Homo sapiens: one gene and its partners. The protein of the gene in region 1 interacts with the protein of each later gene in a pairwise test. Each region holds a gene or a part of one and is shown on either strand. Other genes may lie near its edges. The genes, in order: YAF2, SETBP1 and GABPB1.

Region 1 (3,654 bases):
ATATATTCAAAAAATATATCACTTCAAGGAAAACACTTGATACTATATGTTGCCAGTGATAATCATTCAAGTGAAAATTAGAATTTTTGAAAATTTGTAGCAACAATGAGCTTTAGAGTTTCTGTGTATAAAGACTTTTCTGAGAAGATTAGTGGTGGTATCAATGAATATAATTTCTGATATTTCACCATGAAATGTGTCAGCATTTGGAAGCTACGCATAACTCAGCAAACAAATGGTTCCTAGTTACCGATGTATGATTTTACAAAACTGTAATGGGTAATCCATCAAAGTACAAAATACCAACAGATTTTAAGGGAACACTGAAAACTTCATTGATGTGGTTTCAGATTTCATATTGCAACTAACCTTTGAGAAACAACTGTGTTTTTATGTAGTATCAAAGAATAACACCTATAGTTATCTGAAAATGCTATTCAACTACTTACCTCTTTTCAACTGTATATCTGTGAGAGTCCAGATTTTCTTAATATTTTTGGACCAAAACAACATATTGCAACAAATTGAATGCTGAGATAGATGTGACAATCCAGGTGTCTTCTACTAACCAGATGTTAGAGGTTTGCAAAAATATACGATGCCACTCTTCATACAAAATATCTTTGTTTTGGAAAATAATAAGTTTTTAAAATAAAAATATGTCATTTAATATGTGATGTATTTATTTTTTAAATGAACTAATATATTTAGATTTTTATCAGTTTTTATTTCTAATATAGTAAACATTGATAGATGACCCACATTAAGAAAAACAAAAAACAAAAACTCTTAAATTTTAAGAGTGTAAATGATCCTAAGACCAAAAAGTTTGTGAACTGCTGGTCTAGAGTTTATTGGCTTGGGTTTCTACATGCAATGGCTTTACTTCAGCAGGTATTCTTTTTATTTCCTTTATAGTGTGAGGCCTGATAACTAATATCCTAGTTGTTTAACTCAGTGGCCCAATCTCACTCATCTGTTGATGTCGCCTCCAAAGTATTTGATGTTCTTGGCCCTTTTTAAATTGAAACTCTACTTCCTTCATGTCTCTAAGACTCCTTTTTCATAGATTTCTGTGTATATCTCTGAAACCCATTTCTGCCTCCCCAAACTTGGCATCTGTATATTCTTTACTTTGTATGTGGCATAAACTCCTTTCTGGAACCTCAGCTAGAAACTGTCATTGTCTCAGCTTTGATTCTAATTTGTAGTCCTCCTTCATGTCCTTTCTCTGGATTGTCTCTTAAATCTATCCTTTTTCCTTTTATGTAGTTACAGTTCAGAAGCCCATATCACTTCTGTCATGAACTATTGGACAAATTGGTCTCTCCTTTGGAATGCTACTAACATGATCTTCATTATCTTTTTTGAAACCTATGTGATTATGTTGGTCCCTGTATATTTAAAAAAAAAATTGAGTCCTATTAGTGGCTGCTGAATAAAGGCTGAGATCCTTAGGATAGTGTTCAAGGCCATAATAATAATCTATCCCTAAACTACCTTCCTAGCTTCATTTCCTGCTGCTTATCCCAATCCTGTGCTGTGTCAGCACTGAATTATTTTTATCATATGGTACTTTTTCTTTCTCTTTCTTTCTTTCTTCTCTTTCTTCTCTTTCTTCTCTTTCTTTTCTTTCTTGAAGGAGTCTTGCTCTGTCGCCAGGCTGGAGTGCAGTAGCGCGATCTTGGCTCACTGCAATCTCCGCCTCCCAGATTTGAGCGATTCTCCTGCCTCAGCCTCCTGAGTAGCTGGGATTACAGACGTGTGCCACCATACCTAGCTAATTTTTTTATTTTTAGTAGAGACAGGGTTTCACCATGTTGGCCAGGATGGTCTCCATCTCCTGACCTCGTGATCCGCCTGCCTCAGCCTCCCAAAATGCTGTGATTGCAGGCGTAAGCCACCATATGGTACTTTTCAAAGAAGCCCTCTAGGATTACCATCCCTCCACCCCTTGGTATCATATTGATTCTATGTATGTAGAGTCAGTCATGCACTCCATAATGACATTTTTGGTGAGTGGGGGACCACATATACAGTCCCATAAAATGATACTATATTTTTACTCTACTTTTTCTATGTTTAGATACAAATACTTACCATGGTGTTACAATTACCTGCAACATTCAGTATAGTAACATCCTGTACACCTGTAGCTTCAGAGCAATAGGCTCTACCATATAGCCTAGGTATGTAGTAGGCTGTACCATCTAGGTTTGTATAAATACATTCTATGATGTTCTGACAATGAAATCACCTAACGATGCATTTTTCAGAACATATCCGTCATTAAATGATGCATGGCTGTATGTATATGTAATTATTCCTGGAGAATAAATATATTGTAGTATAATTGTCTAGACACTTATCTGCCCTACAGGGCAGAGACCGTCTTATTCACTTTGGTATTCCCAGAAGCTAATAAAATACCTGAAGTATTGTAGATATTTAAATGTTTTTTTTTTTTTTTAATTTATTTTTTTATTGATAATTCTTGGGTGTTTCTCACAGAGGGGGATTTGGCAGGGTCATGGGACAATAGTGGAGGGAAGGTCAGCAGATAAACAAGTGAACAAAGGTCTCTGGTTTTCCTAGGCAGAGGACCCTGCGGCCTTCCGCAGTGTTTGTGTCCCTGATTACTTGAGATTAGGGATTGGTGATGACTCTTAACGAGCATGCTGCCTTCAAGCATCTGTTTAACAAAGCACATCTTGCACCGCCCTTAATCCATTTAACCCTGAGTGGACACAGCACATGTTTCAGAGAGCACAGGGTTGGGGGTAAGGTCACAGATCAACAGGATCCCAAGGCAGAGGAATTTTTCTTAGTGCAGAACAAAATGAAAAGTCTCCCATGTCTACTTCTTTCTACACAGACACGGCAACCATCCGATTTCTCAATCTTTTCCCCACCTTTCCCGCCTTTCTATTCCACAAAGCCGCCATTGTCATCATGGCCCGTTCTCAATGAGCTGTTGGGCACACCTCCCAGACGGGGTGGTGGCCGGGCAGAGGGGCTCCTCACTTCCCAGTAGGGGTGGCCGGGCAGAGGCGCCCCTCACCTCCCGGACGGGGCGGCTGGCCGGGCGGGGGGCTGACCCCCCAACCTCCCTCCCGGACGGGGCGGCTGGCCGGGCAGAGGGGCTCCTCACTTCCCAGTAGGGGCGGCCGGGCAGAGGCGCCCCTCACCTCCCGGACGGGGCGGCTGGCCGGGCAGGGGGGCTGACCCCCCCCCCACCTCCCTCCCGGACGGGGCGGCTGGCCGGGCGGGGGGCTGACACCCCCACCTCCCTCCCTGACGGGGCGGCTGGCCGGGCAGAGGGGCTCCTCACTTCCCAGTAGGGGCGGCCGGGCAGAGGCACCCCTCACCTCCCGGACGGGGCGGCTGGCCAGGCGGGGGGGCTGACCCCCCCCCCCCACCTCCCTCCCGGACGGGGCGGCTGGCCAGGCGGGGGGCTGACCCCCCCACCTCCCTCCCGGACGGGGCGGCTGGCCGGGCAGAGAGGCTCCTCACTTCCCAGTAGGGGCGGCCGGGCAGAGGCGCCCCTCACCTCCCGGATGGGGTGGCTGGCCGGGCAGGGGGGCTGACCCCCCCCCACCTCCCTCCCGGACGGGGCGGCTGGCGCGGGCGGGGGGCCGACACCCCCACCTCCCT
Region 2 (3,654 bases), on another chromosome or scaffold:
TGTCAAATATTAAGTAGCTTCAACATGCTCATCTTTGTTTCTCTCTCTCTGTCTCTCTCCCTCTCCACTCCACCCACCCTTAGGCTTACGAGAGGCCCCAGAAACATTCAACTCTCCATTATGACACGGGCCTCCCACAGGACTTCACCGGTGACACCTTAAAACCAAAGCACCAGCAAAAAAGCAGCAGCCAGAACCACATGGACTGGTCCACCAACTCTGACAGCGGACCCGTCACTCAGAATTGCTTCATCAGTCCAGAGTCTGGCAGAGAAACTGCAAGCACCAGCAAGATCCCCGCTCTTGAGCCCGTGGCTTCCTTTGCAAAGGCCCAGGGTAAGAAAGGCAGTGCAGGGAACACGTGGAGTCAGTTGTCTAACAATAACAAAGATCTGCTCTTGGGAGGTGTGGCTCCATCCCCAAGCAGCCACAGCTCACCAGCCCCACCCAGCAGCTCTGCTGAGTGCAACGGGCTTCAGCCCTTGGTGGATCAAGATGGAGGAGGTACAAAGGAGCCCCCAGAACCACCTACGGTGGGCAGCAAGAAAAAGTCCAGTAAAAAAGATGTGATAAGTCAGACCATACCAAACCCAGACCTGGATTGGGTCAAGAATGCCCAGAAAGCATTTGACAATACAGAAGGGAAAAGGGAAGGTTATTCCGCAGATAGTGCCCAAGAGGCATCACCAGCCAGGCAGAACGTGAGTTCTGCCAGTAATCCTGAAAATGACTCAAGTCATGTCCGGATTACTATCCCCATCAAGGCACCCTCTCTGGATCCAACCAACCATAAGAGGAAAAAAAGACAGTCCATTAAAGCGGTGGTGGAAAAGATCATGCCAGAGAAAGCCTTGGCTTCTGGAATCACCATGAGCAGTGAAGTAGTTAACAGGATACTTTCCAACTCTGAGGGGAATAAGAAGGATCCCCGTGTCCCTAAGTTGAGTAAAATGATAGAGAATGAGTCCCCCTCAGTTGGCCTTGAAACTGGTGGAAATGCTGAGAAAGTTATCCCAGGAGGTGTGTCTAAGCCGCGGAAGCCACCCATGGTCATGACACCTCCAACGTGCACAGATCACTCTCCATCCAGAAAGCTGCCAGAAATCCAGCATCCAAAATTTGCTGCAAAACGAAGGTGGACTTGCAGCAAACCAAAACCTAGCACCATGCTTCGAGAGGCAGTTATGGCCACCTCTGATAAACTGATGCTGGAGCCCCCGTCTGCATATCCCATCACCCCATCCAGCCCTCTCTACACCAACACAGACAGTCTTACTGTGATCACTCCAGTCAAAAAGAAGCGGGGACGACCAAAGAAGCAGCCTTTGCTCACAGTCGAGACGATTCATGAGGGAACTTCCACCAGCCCCGTCAGTCCCATCAGCCGAGAGTTTCCTGGCACTAAGAAAAGAAAGCGACGACGCAATTTAGCGAAGTTGGCCCAGCTAGTGCCGGGAGAGGACAAACCCATGAGCGAGATGAAATTTCACAAGAAAGTTGGAAAGCTCGGCGTGTTGGATAAGAAGACCATCAAAACTATCAATAAGATGAAGACACTCAAGAGGAAAAACATCTTGAATCAGATCTTGTCCTGTTCCAGCAGCGTTGCTCTGAAGGCAAAAGCTCCCCCAGAGACCAGCCCTGGGGCAGCAGCCATTGAAAGCAAACTGGGCAAGCAGATTAATGTCAGCAAGAGGGGAACCATCTACATTGGCAAGAAGCGGGGCAGGAAGCCAAGAGCAGAGCTGCCACCCCCATCCGAAGAACCCAAAACAGCCATCAAGCACCCCAGGCCTGTTTCTAGCCAGCCGGATGTTCCAGCCGTGCCTTCCAACTTTCAGTCACTTGTGGCGTCTTCACCAGCAGCTATGCACCCACTTTCAACACAGTTAGGTGGGTCCAATGGCAACCTGAGCCCTGCCAGCACTGAAACCAATTTTTCAGAGTTGAAAACTATGCCAAATCTCCAGCCCATCAGTGCTCTTCCAACCAAAACCCAAAAGGGAATACACAGTGGAACCTGGAAGCTGTCTCCACCCAGACTGATGGCCAACTCCCCTTCACACCTGTGCGAGATTGGCTCCCTAAAGGAAATCACGCTGTCCCCTGTGAGCGAGTCCCACAGTGAGGAGACGATCCCCAGCGACAGCGGCATTGGGACAGACAACAACAGCACTTCTGACCAAGCGGAGAAGAGCTCAGAATCCCGAAGGAGGTACTCTTTTGATTTCTGCTCCCTGGACAACCCGGAGGCCATTCCGTCCGACACCAGCACAAAGAACCGGCATGGCCACCGGCAAAAGCATCTCATTGTGGACAACTTTCTGGCCCACGAAAGCCTCAAGAAGCCAAAGCACAAGAGGAAACGGAAAAGCCTGCAAAACCGCGATGACCTCCAGTTTCTGGCAGACCTGGAGGAGCTAATCACCAAGTTCCAAGTGTTCAGAATCTCCCACCGGAGTTACACCTTCTACCACGAGAATCCATATCCCAGCATTTTTCGGATTAATTTTGATCACTATTACCCGGTGCCATATATCCAGTATGACCCGTTGCTCTATCTTCGTAGGACTTCAGACTTGAAGTCAAAGAAGAAGCGTGGTAGGCCTGCAAAAACCAATGACACCATGACAAAGGTGCCTTTTTTACAAGGGTTCAGCTACCCTATTCCCAGTGGAAGTTACTATGCACCCTATGGAATGCCTTACACATCAATGCCTATGATGAACCTTGGTTATTACGGTCAGTACCCAGCTCCTTTGTACCTATCGCACACGCTTGGAGCAGCTTCCCCATTCATGAGGCCAACAGTGCCACCACCTCAGTTCCACACAAACTCCCACGTAAAGATGTCCGGTGCAGCTAAGCATAAAGCCAAGCATGGAGTACACCTGCAGGGACCTGTTAGCATGGGCCTTGGTGACATGCAGCCTTCTCTGAACCCTCCCAAGGTAGGCAGTGCCAGTCTGTCCAGTGGTCGGCTCCATAAGAGGAAACACAAACACAAGCATAAGCACAAGGAAGACCGGATCCTAGGGACCCATGACAACCTGAGTGGTCTTTTTGCAGGCAAAGCCACAGGCTTCTCCAGCCACATCCTGAGCGAGCGGCTGAGTAGCGCAGACAAAGAGCTCCCGCTGGTGAGTGAGAAGAACAAGCATAAGGAGAAACAGAAGCACCAGCACAGCGAAGCCGGCCACAAAGCTTCTAAGAACAACTTTGAGGTGGACACCCTGTCTACACTGTCACTTTCCGACGCCCAGCATTGGACACAGGCCAAGGAAAAAGGAGACTTGAGCAGTGAGCCTGTGGACTCATGCACGAAAAGATACTCTGGCAGTGGCGGGGATGGTGGCAGCACGAGATCAGAGAACCTGGACGTGTTCAGTGAAATGAACCCTTCGAATGACAAGTGGGACAGTGACGTGAGTGGGAGTAAAAGGAGGAGCTATGAAGGCTTTGGAACGTACAGGGAAAAGGACATCCAAGCCTTCAAGATGAACCGCAAGGAGAGAAGTTCTTATGACTCCTCCATGTCTCCAGGTAAGGCTGTTTTTCTTCAGAAATGGATTATCAAGTTATTTCATTGCTGGGCTTTGCACCTCAGACACATCTGTGGCACATTGTGTTCACTAGTTTGCAAAGAGGTGGGAA
Region 3 (3,654 bases), on another chromosome or scaffold:
TCAAAATATTAGTTACCTCTGGGGCTGGGGGAGGGGCTTGTGATCAGGGAGTGGCATGTGGGAAGATTTTTTTTTTTTTTTTTTTGAGACAGAGTTTCGCTCTGTTGCCCAGGCTGGAGTGCAGTGGCATGATCTTGGCTCACTGAAGCCTCTGCCTCCCGGGTTCAAGTGATTCTCCTGCCTCAGGCACCGAAGTAGCTGGGATAACAGGCGCCCACCCTCACACCCAGCTAATTTTTTATTTTTAGTAGATGAGGTTTCACCATGTTGGCCAGGCTGGTCTCGAACTCCTGACCTCAGGCAATCCACCTGCCTTGGCCACCCAAAGTGTTGGGATTACAGGCGTGAGCCACTGCGCCTGGCCAGATTTTAAATTACTGGCAGTGTTTTATTTCTAGACTATGGTGTTGATTCACAGGTGTTTGCCTTAAACTACATATATTGGCTGAGCACAGTGGCTTACGCTTGTAATCCCAGCACTTTGGGAGACTGAGGTGGCAGATTATTTGAGGCCAGAAGTTCAAGACCAGCATGGGCAACATAGACCCCATCTCAAACAAAAAGAAAAAAATTAGTCAGGCATGGTGGCTCAGCCTGTAGTCCTAGCTACTCTGGAGGCTGAGATGGGAGGATTGCTTGAGCCTAGGAGTTAGAGGTTACAGTGAGCTACGATAGCTCCACTGCATTCTAGCCTGGGCGACAGAGCAAGAAGCTGACTCTAAAAAAATGAATAAAAAAAAACCCAAAAAGCTACAAAAACTACATGGCCAGGTGTGGTGGCTCATATCCATAATCCCAGCACTTCGGGAGGCTGAGGGAGGAGGATCGCTTGAGCTCAGAAGTTTGAAGGTACAGTGAGCTGTGATCACCCCATTGGACTCCAGCCTGAGTGACAGAGTGAGACCCTGTCTCAGAAAAAAACAAAAAACCCTGCATATATGTATATATATTTTGTGTCAATAACCAAGAAGGGAAAGTCTCAGAAGACAAAAATAAAAAAGTAGATCCTAATGTCAAACTGAGCAAAGCTCCTGGTTGCTAAATGGGCTGTTGAGATATTTTCATTAAATACTGAAATTTAAGAGTATAGAAAAGGCTAGTTAAAGAAAAATTGACAAAGCATGGAGAAAGAAAGGATTGTTTAAGGATCTTCTTTGATCTGCTGGGATGACCTTCTCTTAAAAATGTAAGGTTTAGCTGGGTTTGTTGGTGTGTGCCTGTAGTCCCAGCTACTCTGGAGGCTGAGGTGGACAGATTGCTTGAGCCCAGCAGTTCAAAGCTGTAGTGTGTGATAATTGTACCTATGAATATCCATTGCACCCCAGCCTGGGCAACACAGTGAGGCCCTGTCTCTAATTAAACAAACAACAATTAAACAAACAAACAAACAAAAAATATATCTATCTCTCTATCTATAGATAGATAGATAGAGAGATAGGACTAAGGACCTTTATACATATATCTCACTTAATCTCTTCATAACATAATAAACTGTTTATATGTGTAAATTTCCTTAGTCCAAATATCTTAGTTCTTTGGAATATCAAGTGATGTGGTAATCAGAGGGTTATAGGGATTTTCTGTGCCTTTAAATGCATGTGATAGAACTTAATCTTCCTTCCCTCACATTTTAGTACTCCCTCTGTGTATTGTGGATGTCAATTTAATGACTAGACCACATGGAACCAATTTCAGGAGAATTGGGCTCTGTTTTGGTTTTGTCCTGATTCAACTTTGGCAAATGCACCTAAGATTTTTCCTTTGAAAAAAATCCCTTTAAAAAGATCACTGAGATGTTTCAATACGTGAATTTTTTAAGACCTACAAAACAATTTTGATCCACTTAAAGTAAAAATGTACACTGTTACATTTATTTGAGATGAATTTTACAGACGAAGTTAACTTAGCAAGTTTTGTGTGATTGGTATGAGGAATACATTCTAATACACAGAAAAATTTCTCAAACTCTATCTCTGATTTCTTTTTTTTTTTTTTTTCTTTAGACCAAAATCTCGCTGTGTCACCCAGGCTGGAGTGCAGTGGCGCGATCTCGGCTCACTGCAACCTCTGCCTCCTGGGTTCAAGCGATTCTCCTGCCTTAGCCTCCTGAGTAGCTGGGATTACAGGCACATGCCACCACGCCTGGCTAATTTCTGTATTTTTAGTAGAGATGGGGTTTCACCATGTTGGCCAGGGTGGTCTTGAATTCCTGACCTCAAGTGATCCACCCGCCTTGGCTTCCCAAAGTGCTGGGATTACAGGCGTGAGCCACCACGTTCGGCCTCTATATCTTAATTTCTAATGAAATTAATTTTGTTCAGGCAGTTTATCTGATAAAAAATAATGAAGAAAGAAAGTTTGAATTAAAGGAAATACTGGATTTTCTTCTTCATTGAGAGTGTTTGGGAATTCTTCAAGATGTCTATGAAGAGGATGTGATAAGCATGAATCTAGGCATTTCTTTTGAGTTTTGAGTTGCTATGTAAACAGATAATGTAAAGAAAATCTGTTTACTATATAAACAGAAGTGTAGTAACAATAATGTAAATGTGGATTTTTTTTTTTTTCTGTGGTACAGCTGGGAACTTCTCCACTTCATCTAGCAGCACAGTATGGTCATTATTCCACCACAGAGGTACTGCTGCGAGCTGGTGTGAGCAGAGATGCCAGAACCAAAGTGGACCGAACACCATTACATATGGCAGCTTCTGAGGGCCATGCCAGCATAGTAGAGGTTTTACTTAAGGTATGTGTTCTCTTTTTGCACTTTGCTTTTAAAATACTTTACGGTTTTATAAGAAGGAGAGGGAACTAGTTTTTGTTAAATGCCTACTTAGTATTTTATCTATAGTATTTCATTTTTTGTGTGTATAAGCCCATTAAATGAAAATTGTCTTATAGCTTTCATTTCATGAGGGACAAAACTTCATTTAGGTATATTCTTAGTTAAATCAGCTAATTGATTTCTTGGACCTTGGTCTATCTTATGATGAGGGACTACAGCATTTTTTCTTTTTGTTTTTTTTTTTTTTTTGAGACAGAATCTCTGTCACCCAGGCTGCAGTGCAGTGGCACGATCTCAGCTCACTGCAACCTCCACCTCCTGGGTTCAAGTGATTCTCCTGCCTCAGCCTCCCGAGTAGCTGGGACTACAGGCGCCCACCACCATGCCCAGCTAATTTTTGTATTTTTAGTAGAGATGGGGTTTCACCATATTGGCTTGACTGGTCTCGAACTCCTGACCTTGTGATCCGCCTGCCTTGGGCTCCCAAAGTGCTGGGATTACAGGTGTGAGCCACCATGTCCGGCCCTTAATTTTTTGTATTGTAGAGATGGGGTTTTGCCATATTGCCCAGGCTAGTTTCAAACCCCTGAGCTCAGCTGATCCAACCGCCTCGGCCTCCCAAAGTGCTGGGATTACAGGCGTGAGCCACTGCACCTGGCCTGGAACATCTATTTAACATATACATATAAATAATTGACTACATTATTTGTTCTTGCTTTAAAGCACAGAACTAATAATTTCATATCAGGAATTTTTTATGTGATATTTCATATTTTAGTAAACTCTTTGAAATATTTTTGTAGCATGGTGCTGATGTCAATGCAAAGGACATGTTAAAGATGACAGCTCTCCATTGGGCCACAGAACAC

What was found.
Region 2: the proteins of YAF2 (region 1) and SETBP1 interact in binary tests that used the Homo sapiens proteins (3 or more experiments, as listed by UniProt).
Region 3: the proteins of YAF2 (region 1) and GABPB1 interact in a two-hybrid assay, tested with the Homo sapiens proteins (one study listed by BioGRID).

Annotation. Positions count from the first base shown.
Region 1 is NC_000012.12:42,228,238-42,231,891, reverse strand, and holds part of YAF2 (YY1-associated factor 2), read left to right. Parts: exon of another isoform or gene 1-670; intron 671-3,654. UniProt on the Homo sapiens protein: Binds to MYC and inhibits MYC-mediated transactivation. Also binds to MYCN and enhances MYCN-dependent transcriptional activation. Increases calpain 2-mediated proteolysis of YY1 in vitro.
Region 2 is NC_000018.10:44,949,798-44,953,451, forward strand, and holds part of SETBP1 (SET-binding protein), read left to right. Parts: intron 1-83; coding exon 84-3,543; intron 3,544-3,654.
Region 3 is NC_000015.10:50,303,058-50,306,711, reverse strand, and holds part of GABPB1 (GA-binding protein subunit beta-1 isoform beta 2), read left to right. Parts: intron 1-2,578; coding exon 2,579-2,746; intron 2,747-3,588; coding exon 3,589-3,654.